3 separate regions of the Homo sapiens genome follow, and all the other regions are linked to region 3. The links come from fine-mapping of genetic effects on gene expression. A gene starts in region 3. Each other region holds a variant in brackets. All regions are shown on one strand. Distances are from middle to middle. Region 1 holds the start of LOC124906173 (small nucleolar RNA U13). Region 2 overlaps GPD2 (glycerol-3-phosphate dehydrogenase 2). Region 3 holds the start of GPD2 (glycerol-3-phosphate dehydrogenase 2).

What was found. PIP is the estimated chance that this variant, and not a neighbour inherited with it, causes the effect.
Region 1: its variant is the best candidate, but not a certain one, in a credible set for the expression of GPD2 in whole blood (INTERVAL, PIP 0.57).
Region 2: its variant is the best candidate, but not a certain one, in a credible set for the expression of GPD2 in monocytes after Pam3CSK4 (Quach 2016, PIP 0.72).

Annotation. Positions count from the first base shown.
Region 1 is chr2:156,409,195-156,414,425 of GRCh38, forward strand. LOC124906173 (small nucleolar RNA U13) reads right to left here and starts at 1,052; the gene lies at 950-1,052. It also overlaps a transcript of GPD2 not described here. The variant A/AT (reference allele first, on the strand shown) is at 2,721.
Region 2 is chr2:156,459,912-156,465,142 of GRCh38, forward strand. The region is part of intron 1 of GPD2 (glycerol-3-phosphate dehydrogenase 2); the gene reads left to right. Among named protein-coding and RNA genes, the nearest start is that of GPD2, 26 kb to the left of the region's middle. The variant AT/A (reference allele first, on the strand shown) is at 2,542.
Region 3 is chr2:156,433,630-156,438,860 of GRCh38, forward strand. It overlaps GPD2 (glycerol-3-phosphate dehydrogenase 2), which reads left to right and starts at 2,750. Exons shown (of 17, transcript NM_000408.5): 1 at 2,750-2,884. RefSeq lists silencers at 1,852-2,021, 2,462-2,871 and an enhancer at 2,262-2,311.

The DNA of each region.
Region 1 (5,231 bases), 24 kb before region 3:
TAAGCCACACAATTGGTGATACTTGTTATTGGCAGCTCTAGCAAACTAATGCATTAGGTTATCAAGAAGTAACTCAGCAGTTAGGATACTATAGTCTTACATTTTTGACTTGGCAGAGACCAGTATATTTGTGCATTAATACCATTAACTTCATTCTTAATATTAGTTCTTGACAATTTAAGCAACACAAAGCTAAACACAACAATAATAGTAGAAAGTCTGCTGAGTGTGGTGGCTGACATCATAATCCCAGTTCTTTGGGAAGCTGAGGTGGGAGGATCTTTCAGGGCCAGGTGTTCAAGACCAGCCTGGCCAACATAGGCAGACCCCCCAACTCCACAAAAAATAAAAAAAAATTAGCCAGGCATGGTGGTGCATGCCTGTAGTCCTAGCTACTCAGGAGGCTGAGGTGGGAGGATCACTTGAGCCTGGGAGTTTGAGGTTGCTGTGAGCTATGATTTCACCACTGTACTCCAAACTGAATGACAGAGGGAGATTCCATCTTTAAAAAACAAAAACAAAAAAACCTAGAAAGTCAAGGAACAATTCAGCATAGTTAGGAGAGAGGACCTATATTCCATAAATAAACTATTCTCCAAAGTTAACATCCTGGACCAGGTATGGTGGTTCATGCCTTTAATCCCAACATTTTGGGAGGTTGAGGCAGGAGGATCCCTTGAGGCCAGGAGTTTGACACCAGCCTGGGTCAACACAGTGAGACACCAGCTAATAAAAAAATTAGCCAGGTGTGTTGAGGCAGAGGATCCCTTGAACCCAGGAATTTGAGGCTACAGTGTGCTATGATTGTGGCACTGCACCCCAGCCTAGGCAACAGAGCAATATCCCATCTCAAAAAGAAGAAAAAAGGAAGGCTTATAGATGATAAAAGTAATTGACAGCCACTTTTTAAAAATTAGCTTTTTGCTTTTATTTATTTATTTTTCTTCCATTTCAGGCTAGCAGTGTGTGACACCATAACAAAGTTTAAGGGCAGCACGTCTCACACATGCGGGTGAATACTCAGTCATCATGCTTATAAACTACAGAAGGATCTGAATGAGTTTCTAGAATAATTCCTAGTCTAAAGGTTTGTAGTTCTATTTTCATGACTATTTTAGGAGCTAGAAGCATTAAATGTAATTAATGATTGTGAAAAGTTGCAGACACAGGCATAACACAAAGCAAGGAGGACACAAAACCTCAGAGAGGCAATAACATACTTTTATTTTCACATTCAATCCTATAAATATCATTGCAAAATCTATATATGTGTTTTGGCACATAATATATTTACTAGTCATCTTAGCTTTGTGAATTTTCTAATTTGCTCTATTTAAAAAAGATTACCATATTTTTTCTAGAGATGGGGTCTTGCTGTGTTGCCTAGGTTGATCTTGAACTCCTAGACTCAAGCAACCCTCCCGTCTCACCTAAATAAGATACCCTGATAGGAGCTTCCAGGTTTAACTTTGGTTGAACCATTAACACATTTGTCTTTATTTTTTAGTTTTACTCATGTATGGCAAAGTGCTGCATTACAAAGTCATATACCATTTGACTCTGTTTTGCTTCTTAGGATTAATGACCACCTTATCTAGATTTTGTGCTTAAAAGGTAAATACTGCTATTAGTTACTTGGAGACCTCTTCACTTTTCCCCTTTCCTCAATTATATATATATACAGCATTTGCCACAAAAGGATATTGCACTGGTAAAAGGAACACTCCATTTGGTCAATTAACAGAATGTCTAACATAGACAAATTACTTCCACTTTAACGTGATTATTTTCCCCACTTCTAAGACAAATTCTATGTTGTGGGAGAAAAATAATAGGGTTGGTGAAAATAAATAATACTACATATAGTGTTTATAAGAAACTAGATGTTGTCTAACTTGAACAGCAAAATAATTACCATAAACTAGAACACTTCTAGTTAACAGATGAAAAAACAAGGGGGTAAGTAGCTTATTTAAAAATCCTTCAAAAAGTAAGTAGAAGGCTGGAATTCTGACTCTAGAGCTTATGTTCTTAACAACTTGTCTAGGCTCCATAACAAATTGTCTGTGTACTTCATTTGTATAACTTTCCAGTCACATAAGTTCTCTCTCTCTCTCTTTTTATTTTTAAATTTTTTTGAGATGGAGTTTCATTCTTGTCACCCAGGCTGGAGTGCAATGGTGTGATCTTGGCTCGCTGCAACCTCCACCTCCTGAATTCAAGCAATTCTCCTCCCTCAGCCTCCCAAGTAGCTGGGATTACAGGCACCCACCACCCTGCCCAGCTAATTTTTGTATTTTTAGTAGAGACAGGGTTTTACAATATTGGCCAGGCTTGTCTTAAACTCCTGACCTCATGTGATCCACCCGCCTCAGCCTCCCAAAGTGCTGGGATTGTAATCTGTATATACAGAATCTAATATACAGAATATAAATTCTGTATATTAAACAAAACAGCAATGAGAATTTCTAGCAGTTTTTCCGTTAGCACCAAGTAGCTGAAAGACATTGAACTAATAAAATGTTTTCTGCTATGACCTTAAGGGTCTTTAAACCTAAAGTTGTTCTTCAGAAGGGTAAGGAATTCCAAAAAATAATGGTCATTATCTGAATTTAAGATCCTGTATTACAGAATCAATACAAATTATAAAAATAGCATTTAAAATGTTTGAATCATTGATAAGAATTCTTCCTACATAATCTTTCATGGGCTTTAGGAAT[A/AT]TATGCCTAGCCAGGAAAACCAACCTCACTCAGATATGAAGTCGCTTCTTTGTTTCAGTTTACCATCCGGAGCAAAAGTGCTTGGCCACCTCATTTGAAAACACTGAAACCATGCAAAGCTTCTCTTAGTAGTATTGAGCCGCAAAGATGTAGGATTTATTAGTCAGCCTTTAAAAATATCTGCAGACAACTGTATGAAAAACTTGCCCCATTGTACAATCCTTAGGAGTATAGGATTTGGCCAGGAGTGGTGGCTCACACCTGTAATCACAGCACTTTGGGAGGCTAAGGTGGGTGGATCATTTGAGGTCAGGAGTTCGAGACTAGCCTGGCCAGCATGGTGAAACCCTATCTCTACTAAGAATACAAAAAAAATTAGCCTGGCATGGTGGTGGATGCCTGTAGTCCCAGCTACTTGGAAGGTTGAGGCAGGAGAATTGCTTGAACCCGGGAGGCGGAGGTTGCAGTGAGCCGAGATCTTGCCACTGCACTACAGCCTGGCACAGAGTGAGACTTCGTCTGTAAAAAAAAAAAAAAAATACAGGATTTGGTCAGACTGCCAAGGTTTCAATTCCATCTCCATCTTTTACTAGTTCTGTAATTTTGATGGGGGCATTTAGCCCCTCTGTCTCAGTTTTCTTCTTGGTAAAAAGGGCATACAATTGTATGTATCTTATAGGGTTGCTGTGAGAATTAAATGGGCTAATGCACATAAAGCTCTTCCACAGTGTCTGGCACATAGTAAAATTAGCTCAATAAATATTAGCTATACATAACAAATGAGAACCAATATTGTAAAACCTTCTTCTAACTAGTATAAAGATGAGCAACATTTGGCTTTGGATTATCCTAAAGAAAAAACAGTAAGCAGAAAATTATACCTTTTAAAACTATGATGCCAGGAGCAGTGAGTGGCTCATGCTTGTAATCTCAGCACTCTGAGAGGCTGAGACAGGTGGATCAATTAAACTCAGGAGTTTGAGACCAGCCTGGGCAACATAGTGAAACCCCTTCTCTACAAAAAATACAAAAATTAGTCTGGCATGATGGTGTGTGTCTGTAGTCCCAGCTACTTGGGAGGCTGAGGCAGGAGGATTACATGAGCCCTGGAGGTTGAGGCTGCAGTAAGCTGTAATCATGCCACTACACTCCAGCCTGGGTGACAGAGCAAGACACTGTCTGAGGGTGGGTGGAGTTGGGAGAAAGATGAGCAATGTGTTAAGAGGACAAGTAATTATAAAACTGAGAGAAGAAACTGCATAGAGCCAAAATATATTTTCTCTGAGCTCGTAAAAATGGCAACTCTTTATTTCATCAATATTCCATAACCTTTGCTTATTCTTTTTAGAGCTATCTTGGTGGGGGTGATACTGAAAGTAATAATCAGCCAGGTGAGGTGGCTCATGCCTGCAATTCCAGCACTTTGGGAGGCCGAGGCAGGTGGATCACCTGAGGTCAGGAGTTTGAGACCAGCCTGGCAAACATGGCGAAATCCCGTCTCTACTAAAAATACAAAAAAATTAGCCAGGTGTGGTGGTTCGTGCCTGTAGTCCCAGCTACGTGGGAGGCTGAGGCAGGAGAATCACTTGAACCCAGGAGGCAGAGGTTGCAGTGATCCGAGATCATGCCACTGGACTCCAGCCTGGGTGTGACAGAGTGAGACTCCACCACACAAAAAAAATAAATAAATAAAAATAAAAATAAATAAGGCCTGGCCCAGTGGCTCACACCTGTAATCCCAGCACTTTGGGAGGCAGAGGTGGGCGGATCACCTAAGGTCGGGAGTCCAAGACCAGCCTGGCCAACAAGGTGAGACCCTGTCTCTACTACAAATACAAAATTAGCCAGGCGTGGTGGCGCATGCCTGTAATCCCAGCTACGTGGGAGGCTGAGGCAGGAGAATCGCTTGAACCCAGGAAGCGGAGGTTGTGGTGAGCCAAGATCGTGCCATTGACCTCCAGCCTGGGCAATAAGAGCAAAACTCTGTCTCAAATAAATAAATAAATAATTCCTGAATCTTTTTCCATGGGAGTGTGGAAAATACGAATAAAGTGATTTATATGCTCAATATAATTAATGAATAAGCAGAAATATTCAATTGAATTTAGTTTGCTTCAAAAATTCAGTCACTTCTGCTTAAATAACTTTAAGGTTAAATTAAGAAGAGTTGATGCAAATGCACATATCACTTGGGGACAAAGTTTGATTTTCCTTATTATTAAAGAATAGGGTCTTGATGTTATTCTCACTCTTCCATTTAAAAATTGGAATATAAATAAAGAACAAATGTCATCAATGTATTCTTATTTCAATATTCTAAGTGAAATTAGAATATTGCTTTCAGAATTGATGTTTTAAAGCAGAGTATTGTTGTTGAACATAAATAACGTATAAGTGACTATCAACCTATGTTTCTCCATTCTTTAAATTGTATATAAACTGCAGGTTAAACCCAACAGTTCTGTGATAATTGATGTGAAGCGTAAGGGGAGAGAATCAATGTGAGGTCAA
Region 2 (5,231 bases), 26 kb after region 3:
TGACTGAAGGAGTAAGCTCAAGTGCACTAGGTGAGGTCAGGCCTGAAGGTCATTGGACTGATACTGAACCTGGCGTTTTGACAGGAATCCTATTAGAAATGCCACTTAGTCACTTGCCTCCTGACTGCTTCATGGTAGGAACAGAGGCTCAAACTATGGCCTGAATTTTTTGGATTAAGTTTAAGTTTTACTTAATATTATCCCAATTTTATCTCAGACATTATCTCAAAATTATTTCAAAATTTATGGTTGAAGAGAGGCTGTTGAGTATAAATTGCTAATGTACTCTGCTGAATTCCATCAGCTATGTGATTTGACTGAGAACAGTACGATCCTAGCCCACTGGGGTCTGGTGAATTGCATCTGCTCAGTCAGAGTGTTCCTTGAGCTGGAATTGAAATGCATGGCCCTTTAGTTTCCAGTGTGATGCCAACACTTCAGGCAATTGACTTTTGCTCTTCAGTCTCCAATAGGGGGAAAATTATGAAATAAAATGGGGATAGGCCAGGCATCCTCAAGATTCAAACCCATAAATATAAATAACTGTAATTAATCATATGCAGTCTCTCTTGCCTGTTGGAAATTTATACTCAGCTGGGTCAATAAGCTTCACACAGCTCTTAACTTCCTGGCCTGTAGTTGGTGGGAAATGTTCTGGGTGCGTCAGCCTTTAGAGATGTGACCTAGGGTTCTTTTCCAATATGGGTCCAAAATCAGTGCAAATTATAATGAGTTGTGGGGTGAGAAAAGTCACCTGGAAACAACCCCAGCCCAAGGGGAAATAGAAATATAAAAAAGACTTCTGTTGGCATTTAAGAGGCTCTCTTAGATGACACTGTCTGTTCATTGTTGTTAGCCTGTTAGACTGAGTGAGATGAACAGTCTTTCAAGTATGTAAGTTCAGTACATATTTACATTCAAGTTTATCCCTAAAGTATTTGTTTCCCTATTATAGAATCTTGTAGATTGCAGTTGGTATTTTTGCCTGTTTTCTCATATAATTTGTTAACTCTTTCCCCCTCTCCCATTGTGTCCTTTTTTCTATACTTGCATCTACTCATTATGAACATGGCTAATGGTATCCTAATGAAAAAGCAACCCTCTCTCTCTCCTGGGGGTCATTGGTGTCATTTGAATATGCCAAGGATAGCATCCTATCACTAGCAGGTCCCTGGCTGTGCCTGTGCCTATAGGAGTAGTTGTGTTCCTGCAGGCAAGCACTAAATTATCACATTATCTCTCTCTATCTCTTTTTTTTTTTTTTTTTTTTTTTTTGAGACAGGATCTCACTCTGTTGCCCAGGGTGGAGTGCAGTGGTGGGATCTCAGCTCGCTGTAGCCTTGACCTTCCAGGCTCTACTTTTACTCTTATTACCCTAAAAGGCATCCTCTATACTGCAGCTAGGGCATTTCTTCCTTTCTTTCTGAAATATAAGTTTCATCGTATCATTGTACTGATTAAAATTCTCCACTGACTTTTTTGTTTGTTTGTTTTTGAGACAGGGTCTCACTTTGTCACCCAGGTTGGTGTGATCGTGGCTCACTGTAGGCTCCAACTCCTGTGCTCAAGCAATCCTCCTGCCTCAGCCTCCTGAGTGGCTGGGACTATAGGTGCATGTTACCATGCCCAGCTCATTTTTTCTATTTTTTGTAGGCACAGGGTCTCACTATGTTACCCAGGCTAGTCTCAAACTCCTGACCTCAAGCGATCCTCCCACCTTGGCCTCCCCAAGTGCTGGGATTACAGGCATGAGCCATCATGTCCAGCCTACCCCAGTTATCCTCTAACCTATTATTTCATCTTTATTTTCTCCTAGTAATTCTCACTTTCAAAATACTTAATTTTTATGTTTGTTTACATGTTTATTTTTGTCTTTTCCAATCCATGAGAGTAGAGGAATTCCCAGCCCCTGGAACAGTGCTGGGGATCTGCCAGGTATTCAGTCAATCCCAGTTGAATGTATGTTACCTGAACCAATGCTCCTCCTCCTGTCTTCTTCACTTGGGTAGGTCCTTCACGGATACTTTCCTGAGTATTTGATGGAACTCTTGCTTTGGTTATATTCTAAGAAATTACAATTTTAATCTTTCCTTTGCTATTGGTATGTTTTCAATAAGCCAGTTCTCAAGGAATTTTCGAGTTTTTTAGAAGCAGCAGATGGATTTTTTTGGTCCATTTATCTGCAAATATTTCTTTAAATGCAGGAGAGCACAGAAAAATATACTAATTGTTTCTAGCACAGAAGCAGAGAGTGTTGCCATGTTTTTTCAAGATAATGTGGATCTATTCAGATGAGGTAGAATTGAAATAAGAATTTTCTTTTTCTAAGGCCTGGACTCTGTGCATGTACCTGGTTTGACATTCTTTTTTTCTTTTTCTTTTTTCTTTTTTGAGATGGAGTTTTGCTCTTGTTGCCCAGGCTGGAGTCCAATGGCGTGATCTCGGCTCACTGCAACCTCCGCCTCCCGGGTTCAAGCAATTCTCCTGCCTCAGCCTCCCAAGTAGCTGGGATTCCAGGCATGCAACACCACACCCGGATAC[AT/A]TTTTTTTTTTTTTTTTTTTGTATTTTTAGTAGAGACGGGGTTTCTCCATATTGGTCGGGCTGGTCTCAAACTTCCACCCTCAGGTGATCTGCCTGCCTTGGCTTCCCAAAGTGCTGGGATTACAGGCATGAGCCACCGCACCTAGCCTGACATTCTTAACTCTATGTAAGAGGCTGGGGTAGTTTGTTTCATTCACAGTGTGTACAGCAAAATCCAGATGTTTTCTAGTAAGCTCCACTAACCTGAAACACATAAAAGAAGGGGGTAAAAAGATCCCTGAAGAGTTAGAGCCAGAACATTGAAAACCAAGTGTTAAAATTCTAGTAAGTAGCTCCTTTAGCCTTACTTAGAGCTATTTACTTGTATTTGAAACAGTTAAACTAACTTGGCTCTCATTTTTCTAACCACAGTGGTAACAATGACGAGTTAATGGGTGCAGCACACCAACATGGCACATGTATACTTATGTAACAAACCTGCATGTTGTGTACATATATCCTAGAACTTAAAGTATTAAAAAAGAAGTGAGCTCAAAGATAAACAGGGAAGATTATCATCAGCCTGATAGTTTGGAAGAAGCAGGAAAATTGTAGGAAGCAGAGAGAGGAAGAATTCATACAGGAACAGACTGGGACCTGAGACCACTAAGTAAAGGCATTAATAGTGTTGTCACTCCTATTATTCCTGAGGCCATCACCATATCATAGCATGTACATATGGATGGCTGTAAGTCGTCAATAATTGAATTCATGGTTAATATTATTTAAGAAGCCAAAGTGTGACTTACATTCTTGAAATATAGTATTTTAATCCAAAAGAATACAGAATTTTTTTTTTAACTGTATACTCCACTCAGATGTAAACTCTTGGAATGCAGGGATTTTTTTGTGTGTGTTCTTTGTTTGCTCAGTGCCTGACACATGATGGATGATCAGTAAATAATTATTAAATAAAACCATGAATGCAAGTTTTAATTATCTAACAGTGCTAAATAAATAGGACATTAAGATAATGCCACATTTAATGCATGAGGGTTGTTTCCCCTTCTTCATCTATTGAATGAAGAAAAACCATAAAGTAATAAACTTTTAAAGTTAAAATAGCTTTGGACATTTTGAAGGCTAGCTCATATATAGTTGGAGTGAGGATCAGCAAGTTCAAGTGATTTGCCTGAAATCGCAGAGCAAGTTAGTGGAAGAGACAGAATTACAAGCGTGTCTTTCCTTCCAGAATACCCCCTGATGATTTTCTTTTTTAATTTAGAGTTTTGGGAATACAACATAGAGAATTATATATTTTTGGGAAAGACTATAGAGTTCTTTTTTGAAAAAAAGATCAATGACAGCTTCAAAAGGAATATTGAGTCGAACCCTTTATTTTCTCTATTTATGCTATTTAAATTTTAGACCTGTCACCTCTGTGCTATTAGCTCTGTAGTGTTGATACCAAACATCTTATGCAGAATAACTAGACTATAGTACTTGAATGCTTTTCATGAGGGTTTGTGCTAGCCCTTTTAAAGAAGAAAAGAAATATCTTTTTCTTTAGTTTGGAAAGGATGCGTTATTCAACTGAGGAGAGTAAGATCTTATGACCAAGATCATTTTAGCCAAAATGACTGAGATAGAAATACAGCTTTCCTCATTATTTTTGCATAGGTGAAGGAAAATGTAGTATATTTTCTTCACTTTTTTTGGAGTGGGGATGGAGCATTTAGGAAATACATTGTTTTCACTTACTTTAAATGGGAATTTTGTTAGCAGTATGAATTACTTCAATCTGTTTCTCTCATCTGATTCTTATTTCCTTGTGAGTCAGACATTTTTAGGAAGTGTAATCAGTAAGCTAAATATTCTAATACATGATTATTTTCACTACAGTACGTCTCAGGTTTCCTTTTTCATATATGCATTGTATCTGTACTTTGGCTCTTTGTTGTAGTTCCATTTATACTTGTGGATTATTAGATGTACAGAGGAGTAAATTTTAAATGTAAATTTCAACAGGTTACAGGAGAAAAAAGACTGCAGGATGGAAAAACTAGTCAGCTTTTTTCCTAGGGATCTTCTCTCTGTTAAGGAAACAGAGTGACTGGTCTTCCCACCACAGCGCACTTCTTGATCTCTTATAACTCTCAGTCACCACTTATACATTAAATATATGTGTAGTGATGTTTATAATAGAGCTGTATTCAAATTGAGAACTTTCTTTTACAATGAACTGAACAATAACTGAAGTTATTGTGCTATAACTAATTATTATTAAAAATTCAGTCATAATTTAAAAAAATAAGCTCAGGATTTCTTAAACCATCTTCAACAGATACTTCCCCAAATATATTTCTAACGGCATATAATGCAGTTGCAACAGGAACTTTTGAAAGAATTGGTACATTTTCTTTTCTTTTTTTTTTTGAGATGGAGTCTTGCTTTGTTGCCCAGGCTGGTGTGCAGTGGCATGATCTTGGCTCACTAAAGCCTCCACCTCCTGGGTTCAAGTGATTCTCCTGCCTCAGCCTCCTGAGTAGCTGGGACTACAGGCACCCATCACAACGCCTGGCTAATTTTTGTAGTTTTAGTAGAGATGGGGCTTCACCATGTTGGCCAGGCTGGTCTCGAACTCCTGACCTCAAGTGATCCACCCGCCACGGCCTCCCAGAGTGCTGGGATTACAGGCATGAGCCACCGT
Region 3 (5,231 bases):
CTTGCAATTCCCTTGTCTTGATCAATCGACTCTGTCTAGGCAGCGGGCAAGGTGAACCCCTTGGGCGGTTACACTAGCTAGCAGTGTGACTAGGACTAGTGGGGAAAATAATCAGCTGACATAGTATGGATTGGACCAGATCGCTCACCTAAGCATTCATTTCAAATCAAGAAACATTTAAACATCAGTTATATTCAGGCACTATGCTAGGCACTAGAGTACAAAAGTGAGTAACTGATGGTCCCATTTCCCAAGCACTGAACTGATCTGGGATAATCAGTGAGAAGGAAATCCAGGACTGGCACCCAACTCAACCAGATTATTCCTTTTCTGGGTAACATGTTGCATTTCTAGATAAATGATGAGGGTTTGAAAAAAATGATAAAAATATTGGTTTGATTTGTCAAACTAAAGAAAAAAGAACTGAGGCATACTTAATATAACCAGTCTCATGATGTTGCCCAGTCACAAGTTTTTATTTATTTATTTTTTGAGATGGAGTCTCACTCTGTTGCCCAGGGTGGAGTTCAGTGGTGCCATCTCAGCTCACTGTAACCTCTGCCTCCCAGGTTCAAGTGATTCTCCTGCCTCAGCTTCCTGAGTAGCTGGGATTACAGGTGTTTGCCACCATGCCCGGCTAATTTTTGTATTTTTAGTAGAGATAGGGTTTCACCATGTTGGTTAGGCTGGTCTTGAACTCTTGACCTCGTGATCTGCCCACCTCAGCCTCCCAAAGTGCTGAGATTACAGGCGTGACCCACTGCGCCTGCCCGGCCACAAGGAAGTTTTTAAAGGAAAAGAAGAGGCAGTTTCTAAATTGTTTACCAATAATTTACATAAAAAAACAAACTATTAATTGTCTATAGATTGTTCTTCGTATCACAAATTCCAGGAACATGAAGATATGGTTGGGTAGTCAGTCATGAACAAAATGCCTTTAAACAATCGCCTCTGAGCATGAGTGTGGGGGGTGCAACTTATGTCCCATATTCAAGGTCTCTCTGGGCCTGATAAATTTTGCATACCTCACATTGCTCAAATGCTCTGAACTATTTTTCTTTTCTCAACTACAATTTCCTTTTTCTGGTTGCTCATGATTCAACTGGGGGAGCTTTTAAACCGTGGTTCTCAAACTTTAATGTGCATCAGAACTACCCAAAGGGCTTGTTAAATCTGGGTAGCTCAGCCCCAGCCCCAGAGTCTATGAATCAGGTCACTGGAGTACAGTTTCTGTCAAGTTCTCAGGTGATGCTGATGCTGCGGGCTCCAGTGACTACACTTTTAGAGCCAGTTTTAAAATACAAGGACTTGCAGATCCCACGTCCAGACTGACTCATTGGACTTGGGGATGGAAATCTGGCATTCCACCCCTCCCTGCCCCCTCCCCCCAATTTTAATGTGTCCAAGGGTGAGAATCATTGCTCCTCTGTGGACTATGGATGGTTCCCTGAAGTTACTGAGTTTGGGATTTAATAAATATATGCATTCCTCTGGGTCAACTACAGGAATTCTGCGGTATTTAAGGACATTAAATGAGTGACTTAATACTTTATTTAAAAAAATACCACTGCTTTTTGGTTCACACTAATTTTCTTCCTTCTTTTGGAAAGGCATTTCCGTCCATCTCCTGGATATTTTCCAATACCACGATAGAAAGGTTATTAGTACAGCACCCAGAGGTCTTCGGAGCAAAGCTGTTAAAGAAGTGGGGTCCATTTGAGCCCCAACTTTGCCTTCCTTAGGTCCCCTTGGGCTTGTCTAGCCCTAGGAGTTCCAACAAGTAAGCTGGGCATGCTCAGTGGGCAGGGTCGTTTTTTTTTTTTGGGTGGCGGGGGGTTGCAAGTGGGAAGCCTGCTGTTCAGCTGCCGGGGCTCTCCGCCTCCCCCCACCTGTATGAGGCTGGGTCTGGGGAACCTGTGCTCAGCATTCCACCCCCTGGAGCTTGGGCTTGGTCTTCCCTGCGGGTCCCTGCGCTGACATTCAGGCGGGGAGCCAGGAGGCCTGGCGCGCCTCCAGAGCCCGCCGGGGGAGCCGGGCGAGGGTTCTGGGCTCTGACGGCGGGGTCGCAGGGTCGCCCGCCTCCTGGACACGTCTGTAGGCCTAGGGAAGCCTGCCGGCCGGGAGGTACAGAGTAGGAGAAGCCAGATCCCAGGGCGGACAACGAGAAGTCGTCAGGTAAGCCAGCCCCGCCAGCGTGCCGGCGGACGAGTGTCTCCTCTCCCGCAGGCAGATGGCCAGGGCGGCCCGCATGGGCGAGGGCACAGGAAATCGGACACCGCCACCGTCTTCCCCAGCCTGGCCTAGCTCAGGCTTTCCAGTCCGCCAGCCCGCTGGCAAGGCGGGGCGGAGGTCTGGAGTCCGGCATCGCCGAGGCACAAAGCAGGAACTGCAGCCAGGGGCGAGGGCCCTTGCGTGTGGCGCTGCGCGACCCCACCCGGCGGCAGGACCCGCGTCCCCGTCTAGTCACGTTCATTGGGCCACGGAGACCACCTCGCTCGCCGCCCGCTGTTGGCTTTTCCCTCCCACACCCCCGCCAACCCCGGCCCCGGTTCCCGCCCCCACTTCCGCGTTTCCCCGCTGGGCCGGAGGAGCCTGGGCCCGAGGTATCCGGGCAGGAGGTGGCGGCCTCGCCGCCCTGGTCAGGCCTCCGGGAGGGAGCAGGCGCGGGAGCGGGAGGAGGAAGTCGGGAAGAGGGAAGGCGGGGGCGCGGCCCGCCCGGCGCTCGAGTTACACCCGCCCAGCCCGCCTCGAGTGACAGCCCCGCGCGCCTCGCTGGGAGCACCCGGGCCGAGGCTCTGATTCTGGGGGGAGGCCGACTCCACCCTGGCTGGAGGAACTGGGTGCTCCTGCCCGCTGGCCCCTCGCGCGTGAGGATCTATCTCAGGTGTGTGCTTCCTGGGAGACCCCTTCCCCCGCCTCTAGTATTCTAGGGGGGGAGTGGTCCCTTTCTGACCCGGGCGAGTGTTCTGGGACTCCAGTCTTGGCGGTAGGTGGTGGCGGGAAACGGGAAAGATTTAGAATTTCTTCCCACCAGCAGAAGATGGATTCGCTCTTCTCTAGGGTTTCGTTGTTTATGTTTTGGAGGCGGCATTTGTAAAATAGTAAAGTGGCAGGACTTTTGGGGCGAGGGTTGGTACCCCATTGAAAGTTCATGCAAACTTTTAGCTTGTAGATGCGGCTAGTCTGATAAGGATTGTTGCTCCCTTCCGAAGCAAGAGTGAGAACGAGTCTGGAGGAGGGCTGAGGCTTCTTTGAGAAACTCAGCTGCTGGCGTGTGACCGTCCTAGGAGGAAATGGAAGGTGCACACTGATAACTTAAAACAGCCTCCACTCCCTATGTAGTAACTTCTACCAGCAAAAATAGATTTGCAAAGAGTGCTTTGGCAGGAAGGTGTAGCTGGGTGAATGAAGTGCTGCTCTTAGCAGATGGTCTCTAGTCTGGCTTCCACCTTGTGCAGTGGAATATTCACTCCCAGAAGAGTTCCAGAGTAATTTACAAACACAAATTCTTGCAAAGTGTTAGTGACATGGGCAACCCAAATCACACACAACACATTATAAATATCATAGGAGGCAGCTATAGAAATAGCAGCTAGTCAACTTATACTTGTATAAATAGGTGAGGGAAGGAAGTTAGTAAGTGACAGGGAGTCTTTATTGCTAAAACAAAACTGTTAGTATTTTGCATGTGTTCCAAGTTTAAAGAGATGTGAAGTTTCTTTTTGGCGTGTGGACGGTGCTGGCAGCTGTCACACTGGGCCCAGGCACTTCTTCGTAGCTACTGACCACTCTAGTCCCAGTCCTACAGTTCTTGCTGGCTACCACATGACATCTGGATGCCATTGCCCAATGGAGACCGTGTGCAGTCTGGGGAACCTTGTGATGTGGATGTTGAAACCCCCCTCTGTTTCTCACAGGGGCGTTATGTCAAATTACAACACTCCCTTGACTTTTACAAATCAACTCGTGAAATAATACAGCAATATTTTAATGAATAAATGGGTAAATATGGGGTTTTGGGTTTGAGAACCAACAATGGATTCATTGCAACTGTCCATTCTCATAGCTTATAGAGTCACTTTATTTTATAAAGAAATTCTAAACAGCATTAGAGCTCTGCTTCCTTCTTTCTCCCTTGTGATTCATTCAAAGATGCAATGGCTTGGTTCAGGAATTGACAAAAGGGCCACAGTGTTACCAATTGTTAGTGAGTGTTACCACCCCCTTTAGTTTTTTTTGTAACTATTTAATCTCATTGTAGATATTTTAAAAGATTTGATGATTATTGTGCATAACTCATGTTGGCAAACTATTATAACTCTGAACTTATCCTGTTTGGTTGTTTTCTTTCATCTCTAGCGTGTAAGTTCTATGAGAGTAGCAGGGCTTGTTCTGTCTTGCATACTTTCAAAACTCTAATGCCTGGAGTGGTGACTAGCTTGTAATACACCCTCAATAAATGTTTTCTCAATGAGTGACCTCCAATGCCTAGAGGGGTGACTAGCTTGTAATACACCCTCAATAAATGTTTTCTCAATGAGCGACTGAACTGTGGAACAAACTCCAGCTGAGGGTAGTTGTGGAGCGGGGAGCCAAAGACTTTGGCCTTAGGTCATCTTTTAAAACTCAGCCTCAATTGTCTCATTGGCAAAATATGGATAATAAATGCTATGACGTGTGTAAAATTGCTAGCAATGTACCTGGCAAGTAGTAGACTTCAAAAGACTAGCTTCCATCCTATATTTTTCCTTCTTATACTCAAGTAGGAAAATATGGGCAAAGAATGTAGTTAGCTTGAAAATTTGGGCAAAGAATTCTTGCATGTTGTGCATGAATTATCCGTACATTTTTTTCGGTTAGTTGAGTGTGTTGGGATGGGGAGAGGAGAGGCGAGTTAGTGGTAGCTATGGTTATTAGAGAAGGGAAGCAATTTTCAGATCAGTATCTAATTTCTCAGTTTTAGTTTTTGAATGTGATGATGTTTCTGTTTAGGTTTTCCAAAACTTGATTCTTTCTGTTTGTCAACACCTGGACTCATGGGGCTATCCTAAGTGCAGAAACAACACTTCAGAAAGAGGACTAGAAATCAAATATATGAACACTAGTCTTCTTAAATGAAATTTTCTGTATTCTTGTGCAGCATTATATTGTGTAATAAGTGCTAAATAAAAAAATAGTTAACCTCTTTTGAGAAGCTTACAGTTGTTTAACAAGGTAAAACATAGATGGAA